Homo sapiens: one gene and its partner. The protein of the gene in region 2 interacts with the protein of the main gene of each other region in a pairwise test. Each region holds a gene or a part of one and is shown on either strand. Other genes may lie near its edges.

What was found.
Region 1: the proteins of THRB (region 2) and HMGN3 interact in a two-hybrid assay, tested with the Homo sapiens proteins (one study listed by BioGRID).

The regions. Positions count from the first base shown.
Region 1 is NC_000006.12:79,231,681-79,238,991, reverse strand, and holds the start of HMGN3 (high mobility group nucleosome-binding domain-containing protein 3), read left to right. Parts: upstream 1-4,309; 5' UTR 4,310-4,431; coding exon 4,432-4,446; exon of another isoform or gene 4,447-4,930; intron 4,931-5,064; exon of another isoform or gene 5,065-5,318; intron 5,319-7,311. UniProt on the Homo sapiens protein: Binds to nucleosomes, regulating chromatin structure and consequently, chromatin-dependent processes such as transcription, DNA replication and DNA repair.
Region 2 is NC_000003.12:24,120,824-24,127,850, reverse strand, and holds part of THRB (thyroid hormone receptor beta), read left to right. Parts: intron 1-93; coding exon 94-352; intron 353-4,725; coding exon 4,726-4,967; 3' UTR 4,968-7,027.

The DNA.
Region 1 (7,311 bases), on a different chromosome or scaffold from region 2:
CTGGATGTGTGCAGTTTTTAATCACTCTTCAGGTTCCTTGCAACTACAGAAGAGAAAGAAAGTGAAATAAACAGGTTGTGCCCAGCAAAACTGAGATGGAGCAAAAGCATGAGGTGAGGACTGTGGGGCGAGTTTCACCCACAGAATTACGCTCCTGCTCTGGAAGTATGTTGAGAACTCCACAGGCTTTTATAGATACCTGTCATCAGAATCCAAGTACCGGCATTCAGCAAATATTTGTTGAGAGCAAGGGCCTAGTCTATTAAATACTCTAGTCCCCGAATTATAGTGTAAGCAACACATGAAAAGCTTGTTTGAAAATGCAGATTTCCAAGCCTAGCCATTCAATACCTTGGGACTGGGGCCTAGGGATCTGCACTAATATCAGGCAGCTCATTTGATTTGGGACCGTTAGTTCTTGGACTCTTATTGTTGCTTTGTAAAAACTAACCTTGGTCTCTTCAAAAGTTAGCACCCAATCAAAGTAGAGACTTGACTGGAAAATACAAACAAAATATTCTTTTGCCACCTCTTATTTGTTGTTTTTGATGTTGTTTTGTTACACACCTGAATTCTTCACTGTGTATTTTTTGACCTATTTATGGAAGATTAGTAACTTAATCTGGAATTACAAACTATCAGAAGCAACACAGTATCATTTTCACTTTTCCCCTTTCTTCCTTTCTCCCTCTGTCTGTCTCTCTCTCTCTCTCTCTCTGTGTGTGTGTGTGTGTGTGTGTGTGTCTGTCTGCCAATGTCTCTGTCTCTTTCTTTGCCTTAATGATAGTCATGACTATCATTTGTTTTGCCCTGCTGTCTGAAAAATGCAAAGTAGGTGTACAGTTGCAACTATCAAAAGCAACAATATGTACATTCTGGATCTGACTTCTCCAGTAATTTGTCATTACTTACAGCAAAAGCCTAAGGGACCCTGCCTGTGTCTGCCTGAAAGAGGAAAAGAGGGACAGTTCAAGAAGGAGGTGATCTGCAAGTCATTCTTTCCCTTGAAAACTTCCTCTCAAGCCTGGTGTGGTGGCTTGCACCTATATAACTACTCAGGAGGCTGAGGCAGGAGGATCTCTTCAGCCCAGCAGTCTGACGTGCAGTGAGCTATGATTGTGCCACTGCATGCCAGCCTGGGCAACAGAATGAGATCTTACCTCTAAAAAAAAAATTTTAATATTAAGCATTTTTTTTTCGGAATGTCAAAGATCCACAACATTCATTAGCAGTGGCATTCAATTTTTTTGACCAAGACCATACTAAAAATATATTTCATGTCACAATCCAACATACACACATACATATCTGTGTTGTGTATGTGTTTATATGAGCACATATGGAAAATAGAAACAATTATCTTATGAAACATTACTTACCTTTACCATATATACTCTGCTATTTTCTATGCTTGGCCCTTTCTTTGCTTTTCTTAGCCTTCCCTTCTCCCTTCTCCCTCTCTCTCTCTCTCTCTCTGTGTGTGTGTTTGCGTGTGTGTGTCTGTCAATGTCTCTGTCTCTTTCTTTTCCTTAATGATAGTCATGACACTATAAATGGTTTTGCCCTGCTGATTGAAAAATGTGAAGTAGGTGTACAGTTCCAACAGTTTTGAGTAGGACAAAAGAGGAGAGGAGCTGGAATTGGAAAACAAGTTTGTTCACTATTTTTTTTCTTTCTGTCTCAGTCAGTAACTCTGTTAATTTATCCAGGTCTACCTTAGCTAAGATAGTATATACATCCTACTTTTACTGTCTTAGAGGCTGATATTCCAAAGTAGTAGAAATGCTCAGTGGAATATATTGATAAACAAATGAGTCTGTACTTCTTACCAGCTTGACCTCCTCACTGTCTTCTATGTGACACCCTCATTTCTGCCCAGATGTCTTTATCTCTTAACCTAGAATTCTAGCTACCTGCTAAATCATTCTCTTTGCCTACTCTTCTTACCTCCAGGGCCACCAGTAGAGGTTTGCACTGACTTTCCCAGATCTTGAAGGCTACTAAAGGTACAAGGGAGAACACTTCATTTCCTAGAGTAGTGCTCAGCCAGGTGCAATCTACATCAAAGGAAAGATAAGCAATGCTGTTGTTTTTCAACCGAAGCTGTTATTTTCATAACTTGTAAATGAACTAAAGATTCCAAGAACTCGAGGTCCTCACAATCAGCTTTCTTCATCCAACAAGCAAGCTTCAATTTCATCGTAGCATTTTTATTGTGTGCAGTAAAAACATTCACAATTTTGTTTGCTGTTGATGATCTGAGTGTTTGGTTTTGAAAAAAAATTAACAAAGAAGCCAATTTTGTGAGTTATTTTTCATCACAGAGGAGAAATATTCACCTTAGCACTACCTTTGTTGTGGCACCTTTCCATCTCCATGAAGAAAAATAGCCATCCAGTCCAGATTGCAAGTGCTACTCAGTATCCTTCTCACACATATCTTACTAAAAATGTTTTCACTGACTTTTTCTTTATTTAACTATCAAGTATTTGGCAAATTAATATCTTGAAAGACATCTTCATTATAAATATTATTTTAATGATAAAATTATTAACTTGTAAATTTTTATCTAGCTCTAAGCAATTGGTTTTTATCTTAATTCGTTTCAGTATACTATTGTCATTCACTGAATGCCCAAGAACAGGGAATCTATCAAAAATGATTAAGATCATGTCAAAAGGACACAAGCACTAATTTGAAAGGGTATGCATTGGCTAAAGATGTGGTAATAGGAGCATTAAAAAGGTAATAATAATGATAGCAATACACTGATGCACACCAAATATGTAAAAATCCATGAGTTCATAAAGATGTTCCAAAAAAGAAAGTAATCAACCACCTCTGGAGAGTACTAGATCAATTAATGTATTCTGAAAATTACTAAAGAAAAAGTGAAATATTAAACTTCATTGCTTTTTTAATACATATTTAATACATGATATTTTTAATACATATTTGCAGCCTCTGTGTTACCAAAGTGGATTTGGCCATATTTGTAATGTAAGGCTTCAACACATTTTCCTATGATGTGAGCTTTGCCTGCTAAGATGATTCTGAAACTAACTTTGCCCAATTTTGCTTTTTCTATAATTTCATATGAATGCAATCATTCAGTGTGGTCTTTTGTATTTGACTTCTTTCGTACAGCACTTTGTTTTTGATATTCATCCATGTAGGAAAATTTTTTATTGTTTTTTATTGCTGAATAGTATTCCACTGCATGTGCTCATCACAATTTGCTTACCCATTCACTAGCGCTTTTCCTGCATCTGCTGAAAGGATTGTTTTTCCCCCTTTATTCTATTAATCCTGCCAATTACATTGATTGATTCTCAGATATTAAAAAAGCAGCTTTGCATTCCCAAGATAAGCCCCACAGGTCATGATGTATTGTCCCTTTAAATGTTGTTGAGTTTCATTTACTAAAATTTTGTTCACGACTTTTGTGTCTATGTTTATGAGTGATATTGGTCTGTAACTCTCTTTTGAAGTCTTTCACTGGTTTTGGTATCAGAGTAAATCTGGTCTCATAAAATGAATTCAGAAATATTTTTGCAATGCTCATTTTATGCCTTGCAGAACTTTGAGAAATATTACGCATAAAGTGTAACATGACGGGTGTCATTCAAATATATGTCTCAAATATAAAATAATCAGTTTTTGCCTTGTTCTTTCTTTTCCTAATTTCCGTAACAAACATGTCCTATTCGTCTTCACATCTAGTTTGAAGTTAGCTGAATTAGTGAGTGATTTATAATCACAGATTTCAGAAAATTAGAGCTAAGTGATTTTAGGGACTGTTGTCACTATATATCTAGGGGGGGAAACTGAGGCCTTTAGAAGTTGCCACGCTCTTCCAGTACAGAGTACCTTCCCACGCTTTACAGATTCCCACCATGTAACATTCATTAAAAGCCTTTATGGGTAGGAAATGAATAAGGTACCTGCTGTGTATATATTTACATTATAAAGTTTACGTATTCATTCTTACTCTTTTTCCTTCCTATGAAGACACACACTGTTCTTATTCTTACAATCTCAAAGAGAGAGCAGCGAAACAATGAAACTTCAGGATTGTGTGGCCTGGAGGCTACTAGTTGAACTGGGCATGCTCAGTCGCCAGGCAGATTTTTTTCGGTGAAGTGGAAACTACAACAGCGCGTACCGCGCGCGGAGGTGGGCGTGCCCTCGTGGAATTTAGAACGTTGCCTCAGCCAATGGGGCCTCGCGGCCGGCTGGCGGGGCTCCTCATTGGAGCAGCAGGGAGGCGAGCAGAGGGCCCCCAGAGGGAGCCGCGGAGGTGCAGGTCGAAGAGGCCGGGCTACGTCGTGCCCTGCGCGTGAGCAGCTGCAGAGGCAGAGGCAGCATCCAGCGGCGGCGCCAGCAGTTCCAGTCCGTTGCTTTACTTTTTGCTTCACCGACATAGTCATTATGCCGAAGAGAAAGGTAAGTCTTACCAAAAAAAGATTTCAAAAGCCTTCAAATTCTGCTTACAGTAAATGCTGGCATTGCAATGGCTCGCGCAGAACGCGCGCGGTAGTAACCCGGGGATTGGGAATCTTTGCTCCTCCACGCTTGTTTTTAGATGCCTGTTGCAGACGTTCCTCTCTCTGTCCCCCCTACCCACTCCGTCCTCATCGATCTCTTAATGTTACTTTCTCTCCAGTGACGCGGTTTCCCTTCTTTTTGAACTCATTCTCGCTGGAATGTTTTCCACCCCCAACAACAAGAAGCAAAAGCGGCTTTCCATTCCGAAAGGGAGTTTCCTCTTTGCAAACTGCCAGGTTGCGAATTAGTGTGAAGGGAAAACAGCGAGAGGAGAAAAACAAGTACAAGCGTAAGGAGAGGGAAGAAAATAAATCAGGCAAATGTTGGGATTATTCCCATGCGGCTGTACTCGCGGGCTGGGTGCGCTGCGGTGGCTCCTAGGCTAAGGGAAAGAGAAAGCCATGTTTAAAATAGCGCTCACCCTCCTGCTCGCCTCCGCTGCAGACCCGTATGTACCAACTCCAGTGTCAATCAGGGCTGGGGCCGGCGAGGCGGGGCCTGGCGGCCTGGACCTACCCGCAGTTCGGGGCGGGAGCGGTGGAGTTGGCAGCGTGGAAGACGGGACGGCGCCGGGGCGTCCAATATGGCTCGTCCAAGGTCAGGGGGCCACCAGGTCCTCCCCAGCGACTGGAACCCACACTCGGTTGGGGAAGGCGGGGTCCGCGCGCTATCCGCCCCTCTGCGCGTCTAGCGAACTGGAGTCATTTTTGTCTTGTCTTCCGCCCCTTGCGGACTGTCCTCTTCTGCGCAGGCCCCGGACACCAACTACTACATTCAGGGACACAAATCTCCCTCGGGGTGGGGCTTCGACTTGTCCCGGGGAGGGAAGGGAAAGGTTTCCTCCTCCCTGAGAAATCAGTGAGGATTTCTCAGCTGGTTCCTAAGCAAGTGCTTTGCACCCTCCCACCGCCAGCCTCAGTGTTTCCAACAGTGTCAACGAGTGTGGGTATTAAATTTGAAGCAAAATTACACCTAATGTCTTGCTTTATCAAAGACCATGGACTAATTTGTGTGTGAGAGTGACTGCATTATTTTAAAATACTGAAGTTTTAAAAATTCAAAAGCTTTCCCCTTCTTATATGTTATTACTAAAAATTGGGTAGAAACTTGTCTCCTACCCCACTTTTTAAAAATAATTGAAAGTGTTTAAAAGTCTTAGAGTTTGTTGTGCACATACTGTGTCCCTCACGCTGTGCAGAATTTGACTTGCATTATCTCATTTAATCCTGAAAACAGCTTGAGCGGTGTTACCCCCATTCAGCTGGGACTTAAAGACATAAATTGTCCTGCATCTCACCAACCAATAACTACTAGTAAAGATTTAATCAGATGCTATAGATGCCAAAGTCTTATTCTCACCCATTTCGTACTCACTTACGAAAGGGTGGGTCAAGAGGAATTAAGGAAATCCAAAGGTACTCCCAGTTTAAGAAGACAGATGGCATATTAAGAGCACTAATACTTGAGATTTATTATTTAAACTTAATTTTATGAAGGTATTTTCTAGCCCTGTTTTACTAGAATTAGGATATTAAGTGATGTCACCATTTTCAGCATTTTGACTGAGGGTTAATGATGGATTGGAAATTCTAGTAGAGACAAAGGAACTAATCATCAAGATACGGGTTACAGAGTAAGTGAGCTGGAGGCCATCTTTTTTTCCTGGGAATTATAACCATTGTTTACATAAACAGTAGGTTAGGTGTGCACACTTTATGTATAATGGACCCTGACGATGGAACCCTTCCTTGCTGTTTATTCAAGGGCCAGAGCTGCTGAAACCATTATTCTTACTTCCCCTGTCTGCCTCTCTCAAGGAGACGGAAGGAAAAAAAAAAAAAACTAAAATAACAGTAAAATTACAGCTACAGTTTTATTTCCCTGGAAGGCAGGGAACCCCCATGCATAAGCTAGCCAATGGTCCTGAGACTAGGGGCAAAACTGTGTACAGGCACCTGTGTGTCATTCCTGAGGACATCAGAGTGTTCTCCGGTGATGGAAAACCTCTCCTTGATTAATAGGAAGGCTTTCCATTTATACCTGAAGCCTAACGACCTCAGTTGGTACCTGGGCAGGAACAACCTCAGATTAAACACGGCGATCATGGCCATCCATCTATCAGTCAAGTCTTAGAGCAGCCTCATGGAATCCTGAAGTTCACTGGAACTTATGTGAGGAACCACTGTCATTAGGTAAAGCCTGCTTAGATACAAAAAAGAACTGGAGACAATCCATGCATAGCTCTTCAAGATCTTCAAAGCTGGGGTAACTGCCAAAGCATTTACATACTACACAATATTTTTCTTGACTAAAGAATTGTCTGCTCTACAATATAATAAGCTTTTAAAATGTCCCCCTAGTACTTTTTTGCCTTCTTAGCCCCCTGTATCAACCTTTCCTAGAAATCAAGAAATGTTATTTAATGAACATCTGAGTAAGTTGTTCTGCAGAGCAAGAAGTGGTACAGATAAAGTCAATGAAAACATCTGGAATCCTAGCCCTGTTGTAATGCTGTAGGGACATACAGTTTTTGCCCTCTTGGAACTTGTGTTTAATTCAATGAGGTGATAAGACTAGCAGCACAAAACAGTTGAATAACATTAAAACTGTGTATGTGTTCCAGAATGTGTAGTTATAGATCCCACAAGCAGTAGGACAGATAAGGAAAGTTAACTTTAGGCTGGTCTTAAAAGTGTGGGTAGGACTCAAATATACAAAGAAGTCAGAGTCATTTTTTGTTACCAGGTATTCAAGTGTGTCTCC
Region 2 (7,027 bases):
AAGGTTATTCCTATTGCTTTTAAGATACTGTATGTTGTTCCTGACTGGCATTTTTGCATTTGTTCTTTGCTGACATGAACTGGTTCTTTTCAGCTGCCATGTGAAGACCAGATCATCCTCCTCAAAGGCTGCTGCATGGAGATCATGTCCCTTCGCGCTGCTGTGCGCTATGACCCAGAAAGTGAGACTTTAACCTTGAATGGGGAAATGGCAGTGACACGGGGCCAGCTGAAAAATGGGGGTCTTGGGGTGGTGTCAGACGCCATCTTTGACCTGGGCATGTCTCTGTCTTCTTTCAACCTGGATGACACTGAAGTAGCCCTCCTTCAGGCCGTCCTGCTGATGTCTTCAGGTGAGTACGCCTAGACTCGTTAGTGGGCATCCAAAGAGCTTTTGCTTGTCTAGCGCTAATTCCAATCACTTGAGTTTTCAGTCCCCCTTTAGCTTCAGAAACATAGCTCACTCTTCTTCAGTAAGAAATTGCAGGTTTGCCAGTGGACTGGGAACTTAAAGGGGGGGCGTCAGATGTCTGATGCTTTTTGCAGTGTCCCAGGATAGAAAGAAGCCAAAGGAGCCATCTTAAAGACTCTACGAAGTGATCCGCCTTTGGTGGATACTGTGCAGCCCTCTTCGTAGTCTTTGGCCAAACCTGCCTCCTTCTGGTTTGGGGTATGCCAGATATGGATGTGAGTGACCACACGATTGTGTGTTAAGTTCTGTGTGTGGAAACCGCGGATGCAGGCTAGAATTTGTTCATGGCTTAGCTACAACTGAAGTTTTAGTTATCTGTTGCTAAATAGCACACCGACCCAAAACTTAGTGGCTTAAACATCCAAGATGGCTGGAGTTCAGCTGGGACATCAAACACTGGTTCAGGCCTCCCTCTATGCGGCCTTTCCTCCGGCAGGGTAGACTTCTTACTTGGCTGTTGATTTCCAAGAGAAAGAGTCCCAAGCACACGAAAACAGAAGTTGCAGATCCCATGAGGCCCAGTCTCAAATCACACAGGATCCCTTCATCCACACTGGATTGGCCCAAACAAGTCTGAGTGCCAGCCAGGACTCAACGGTCCCCCTGTAGATGGGAGGATAGCACAGAATGGGCAGCCGTCTGTAAGCCACTACACATCAAACCCTTTCAGGGAAGATAATTTTAAATAGAAGTGGTTTCAGAGTCCTCTGCATTTTCAGGGCACCCAAGTGTAGATGTGCTTTGGCACTTGTCACTCTGCACTGTAACTACCTGCTTCACTTGTCCACGTAAGTCCCTGTGGACTTCTTTTTTTTGAGGACATAGATGTGTCTAACTGTACATCCAGCACCTAGGCCAGTGTGCAATAGAATTCAAGAAATGCTTATTGGATAAATGGCTGAATATGTGGATAAAATATCGGTCACAAGTACATCGAGAATTCTTTGTAGAGTTGCTGCTTCCTGGTTAACTCAGTAGGAAATTTTTTTTTTTTAACCTGAGACACGGTCTTGCTCTGTTGCCCAGGCTGGAGTGCAGTGGTGTAAAGACAGCTCATCGCAGGCTTGACCTGCTGGGCTTAGGAGATTCTCCTGCCTCAGCCTCTCCAAGCACACGCCACCACCCCTGGCTAATTTTTTATTGTTTTGTAGAGAGAAACAGGTCTCACTATGTTGCCCAGTCTGGTCTTGAACTCCTGGGCTCAAGTGATCTTCTCACCTCAGCCTCCTAAAGTGCTGGGATTATAGGCATGAGCCACCACGCCTGGCCTAGAATTCTTTTTTTAAAGCTAATCTAGAAATGTATTTACTATAGGAAATTTAGATATGGCAGACTTTTAAAAAAAGAAAGAAATAATTCTTTTTATTATGGAAAATTTCAAGGGTAAGCAGATAGAATAGCATAATGAACTCCCATGTACACTGTGGCACCCAGACTCCAGACCGGCCTCCTACACTCCCCACCACCTCCTAATGTTCACACCTTGGATAATCTCCTGTCCTTCAGTGTGTGCAGGACCTGTACCTTGCTTCTAGCCAAGAGAATATGGCAAATTTGATGTCACCCCTTGTGATTACATTACATAATCTAAGATTCCCTCTTGCTGGCAGACTTGCTCTAGGGACTCTCCGTGCCAGCTTCATGAAGTAAACCGCCATGTGGGGAAAGTTCCCATGACAGGAGCTATAGATGACCTCTAGGGCTGAGGGTGGTCTCCAGTGACAGCCAGCAAGAAATGGGGCCCACAGTCGTTCAGGAGAATTAGTCTCAAAGAAATAAAATTTATAGCTTATCCAAGGACTCCTTGTGTGACTTTGGGTGACCCCTAGCTTCTCTGGACTTCAGTGACCTTTAAAATGAAGAAATTAAGCTACATACACGGGAATTATATTTCTGGAGGGACTCATGGTAATTTTTTTAGCTGAGATTTTAGAGGTACAAAGACAGTTTTAAATAATGTTGAATCACACCACGAGAAAGCTGTTTCTCTGACGGTTTTCTTCCTGGTTATATCTCCTTCCAAATAAGGCAAGGAGAGAGATTCGGTGTGGTGCTAGTCTGCCTTTAACACCTCTCTTGACACTTACCTTCTTTTTTAACAAAGAGAGAGTGGATCTCAGGAGCAATGTTCAGCCAGAACCTTCAGCTCCAAAGTAACAAAGGCTTTTGCCATGCATCTATTTTTGTGGTTATCTTCTGATTTATGTCAAATGGATTTTTATTACTGAATAATAAGATGTTTCCTCTGTAGTGGGTCAGTTTAACAGATTATTAAGCAAATAATCTAAGTAAGGTAGATAAAAGGAAAAGTAGGTGGAGATGACAAAAACTGTGAATGTGATGCCAAACACTATCAAACACCAAACTGAATGATTCTTCCCAGTTCTCTCATGTTGTGAGGCTGACACTGCCTGACAGCTACAGGACAACTTAATAACTTTTCACAATCCACCCTCCCCAGTGATGTGGACCCTCTTCATTAATACTGCCAGGACCAGAAAAATATTACAAGACATTGTGCATTTGGCAAATGATAGCTGCGTGTCAGGGCCCCAAGTCTCCAGTTCTATCATGGGGCCTGATGTTCTAAGCCCCATGTTTTGTGTGCCATTTCGGTTACACAATATCTTAGACTTTTTCTTCAAAGACTTTTCCAAGAGCCACTACTTCTAAGTTCCTTGGTCCCACAGTGCAAAGAGAAAAAATGAAAATGATCTGAAAGACATTTCTTTAAGAACTTTTGTCTTAAGGAGTTAAAATGGTCTTCAGTCTTTAAAATGTTTCTCTCTTCATAAACCTGTTCAGTGTGATTCAAGCATCATCAAAATGTCAATTTGTACTCGCTATGTCATTTACGTGGCCATCTCGTCTTTATCTCTTTGATGCCACAAAACCCACATTATATTTTTCCCTTTGAAAGAACACATCCAAAGCAATAATATGTTGATCTTCTATTTGGGTCAAAAATTAAAGGATCCTGTGGAAAATTCTTGCACACTCAAAGAAAGAGAGAAGATAGGGGAAAGGGAGAGAGGGAGAACCAGCAAATCTGCAGAGCAGCTTCATCAAATATGAAGGAAAACACAAGATAAAAATGCACGAATTGCCATTTGTGCTAAATAGGGGATTCCAAAAGCCCATATGGTTTGTTAGTTTGTTTAGACTCAGAAGGGTGAATTGAGACATTAGCCCTGATCCTTCCTTTCCAATGAAGCAGAACCCTGTTTCGATTCCTATTGATACAGACACCTCAATAATTGGACCTTTGAAGTGTGAATTCATTTGATCAGAGCCACAAAGAACAAACTGAAGAGAACTTAGCAGGGGCACGTTGGGCCTCCTGGAGCTATTTGAGGAATTCATCCGGGTTTATAGATTATTTTTGTCAGCCAAGTGTCTGCAGCCCAACTATTCCCCAGTTGCCCAGCCTCCTTGTGTCACCCCTTTGTTTGCCACTTTTGGAAACTGACTTGAGCCTCTCCCACATACTATGGGAAGCCCAGTAGTCTGCACAGGACTTGGGAAGATTTGCTGGGCTTTCCAGGGTCCCGGTGTCTTCTCACTCCAGCTCCCACTATAGCTGTTCTCTTCTCTGCATGGGGTGACTCTGGCACAGCTCCCCTCCCCTTTTCATTTCAATTCCAAAATCATGACTAATACAAGGCTGCTACTGGTAGCAATTTTACTAAAGGCATAAGGGAAGGGAAAGGCCAGTTCATTGCAGCCTGGAAGACAACACAAAATTAAACATGGTGTTTCTTGGTCCTCAAGGAAATGTCTTACTATTCCGCGTTCCTCCTTTGGCCTCAGGCCTGCTGCAATGTCCCCAGTCCCTTCATATATCTCCCCCTTCTATGCATGTCCACGCTCATCCTCTCCTCTCTGCCAGGCAGCCAGTGAAAATTCAAAATTGTTCCCCTCATCTTGCAGAATATTTCAGCTATGTCAGGCTTCTCCTTCTGTACCCTAGGAGGGAGGCATCACCTTTCACACTCAAGAAGGTAATTCACACTCAAGCTAAACTGTCTAAACAGAGATATTTATCTGAACAAAGTACTGCCTCTCTTCATATAAATGATGCCACTCCCCTGGTACCTGGTCCCTGGAGCACCAGAGTTCACGCTGCATCCATGCTCATGGCTAAGAGGGAAGACCCTAGATCTGCCCGCCCCCCAATAAAGGCCTGGAATTGGACAAAGCAAGCCTTCCCCCTTCCATCTCTGAATCAATGTCCATCTTCTCTCTTCCCCGCAGATCGCCCGGGGCTTGCCTGTGTTGAGAGAATAGAAAAGTACCAAGATAGTTTCCTGCTGGCCTTTGAACACTATATCAATTACCGAAAACACCACGTGACACACTTTTGGCCAAAACTCCTGATGAAGGTGACAGATCTGCGGATGATAGGAGCCTGCCATGCCAGCCGCTTCCTGCACATGAAGGTGGAATGCCCCACAGAACTCTTCCCCCCTTTGTTCTTGGAAGTGTTCGAGGATTAGACTGACTGGATTCATTCTCATAATTCCTACAGCACTACTGGGTGTCATTTCATTCCATTGCCTAGCTCTTTTTTGTTTGTTTCTTTGTGTTGGGAGGGATTATTTGGGAGGGAAAAGGGAAGTAGTCCTTGGCATAGACATGGATGAAATTGCCCCTTGAATGCGGGTACTTGAAACTATTGCATTTCGTTCTCCGGTCCTGTGATGTGAATGCTCTGAAGGTTTTATGGTTGTGGAGGTGGGGTGGGGGACAATCATTAACTCACCAGCACCAAGCATCACCAGCTCCCACCCGTCCCTGGTCCAAGACTTGAGTCAGCAAAATGGCGCCACAGGACACTAAAGAAGCCTTAAAACCAAGATAATACGACCACCTCCACCCAATCCTGATGTTCGCAGGGCTGAAGTTAACAGAGCACAGACCACCTTTAGTTAGATGTGGCTTTCAGCCTTTTAGGGAAAGACTCGAACAAATTTTCATCTATTCAAGAGCATGCTGTTTGCAGCACTCTTTATGGTCTCCTAGGAGCATAACTTGGAATGTACAGGAATATTTGTGTCCTAAAAAAATCAGCTGCCCTTCCAATATCATTTTTATAACGTTATGGTTTAATTCAAGTTATACAAAGGTGTGACTCAAGGATGTGCAGGTATTGACTGATGGAGGCCAACAAGGAAAATATTTTTTTTCAGTGAGCCCAGAGAAATTAGAAATCTTCACCAATGTCAGTGACTGCATGGTTTCCAAAAATTCACATAGTATTACCTCACAGTAGGAAGGCTTCTTTCCCATTTAGGCTCAGAGAACACTTTTACAGAAATCAAACCTATTTACAGGGTGGCACCCCTTTTCTGTGGCATCTGATCTGTCATCTCCCAAGCTCCTGAAGTTCTTTATCCAGGTTGTATCTTTGCTGAGCTGACAACAGATTTCTCTATGGATCAAATATTCTAATCAAGGAAAGATACGGTGAAACTTCAGTCTTCTTCTGGAGAAATGCTGAGGCGAGATTAGTGCAGCTACATTCTGAGTTGAAGGAAATGCAGTGTTCTGAGGGCCCCTTTGTGTCCTGATGGCTGGAGGACGCTTCCTCCTGGTTAGATCCTCAAGCTCCTTGCCTCATTGACAAATGTCTCCTAGTCCCCTTTTTCCCTCTGACTCTGAGGAACTAAATAGCTTGACTATCTCTAAACAGAGACTGGCCCTGCCACTGACCCTCCTGTCCCTCTCATAGCATACCCTGACAGATACTCAATAGAAAACACCTGCAGACCATGTGCACACTTAACTTTCCTGCCCAACCTGCCTCCCCAACGGCCCATGCTAGAATAGCTTGTGCCCAGAAAACAAACAGTGACACTTCATCTCTTCAGCGTCAGAAAATGGGCATAGAATGTACCCATGCAATTGAATGTATCTCATTCTCCACTGGCATAGTAGATATAAACTATTCCTTTGCCTACCTTTTACTGCCTTATCCTGGAAATATTGGGGAAAATAAGCCATATCAGTGAGATTTACCTAAAAACAAAGGAAGGAAAGTCACTATGGAAACCAAGTAGATGCTTTTTGTAAGTTTGGTGGAGCATAACTGGCCCAGAAGTCTGGGTGCCTGAGTTCTAGTTCGTGCTCTGTCAACTGGTAGATTTGTAATTCTAGGTCTTGGTTTTCTTACCTGGTGAATAAGTCATGATCTCTAAAACCCTTCCTGCCCTTAATATTGTCTGAATTTCAAGGGGAAAAAAAAAATCTGGTTCCTTTAATTATTTTTTTTTAACACTTAAATTCCTAACTTTATTAGACAAGAAGTATGGCCCACTTAACAGTTAAGGAACGTAAATTTGTTATTGGCTCGAAATAATAATTTGACACAATACTAGTCAACCATTTAGAGGCCTTGGAAAAAGAAGAGGAACAGCACTGAAAATTCCAAGTATGATTGGAAATTATCTGGGAGCGGGGAATTAAATATTCAATGCATGAAAGCAATTGTACTGGCTTCTGGGAAAAAGGAAACAAGAACATTGCTATGGAACTTGTTACCCAGAGAAAGGAAGTG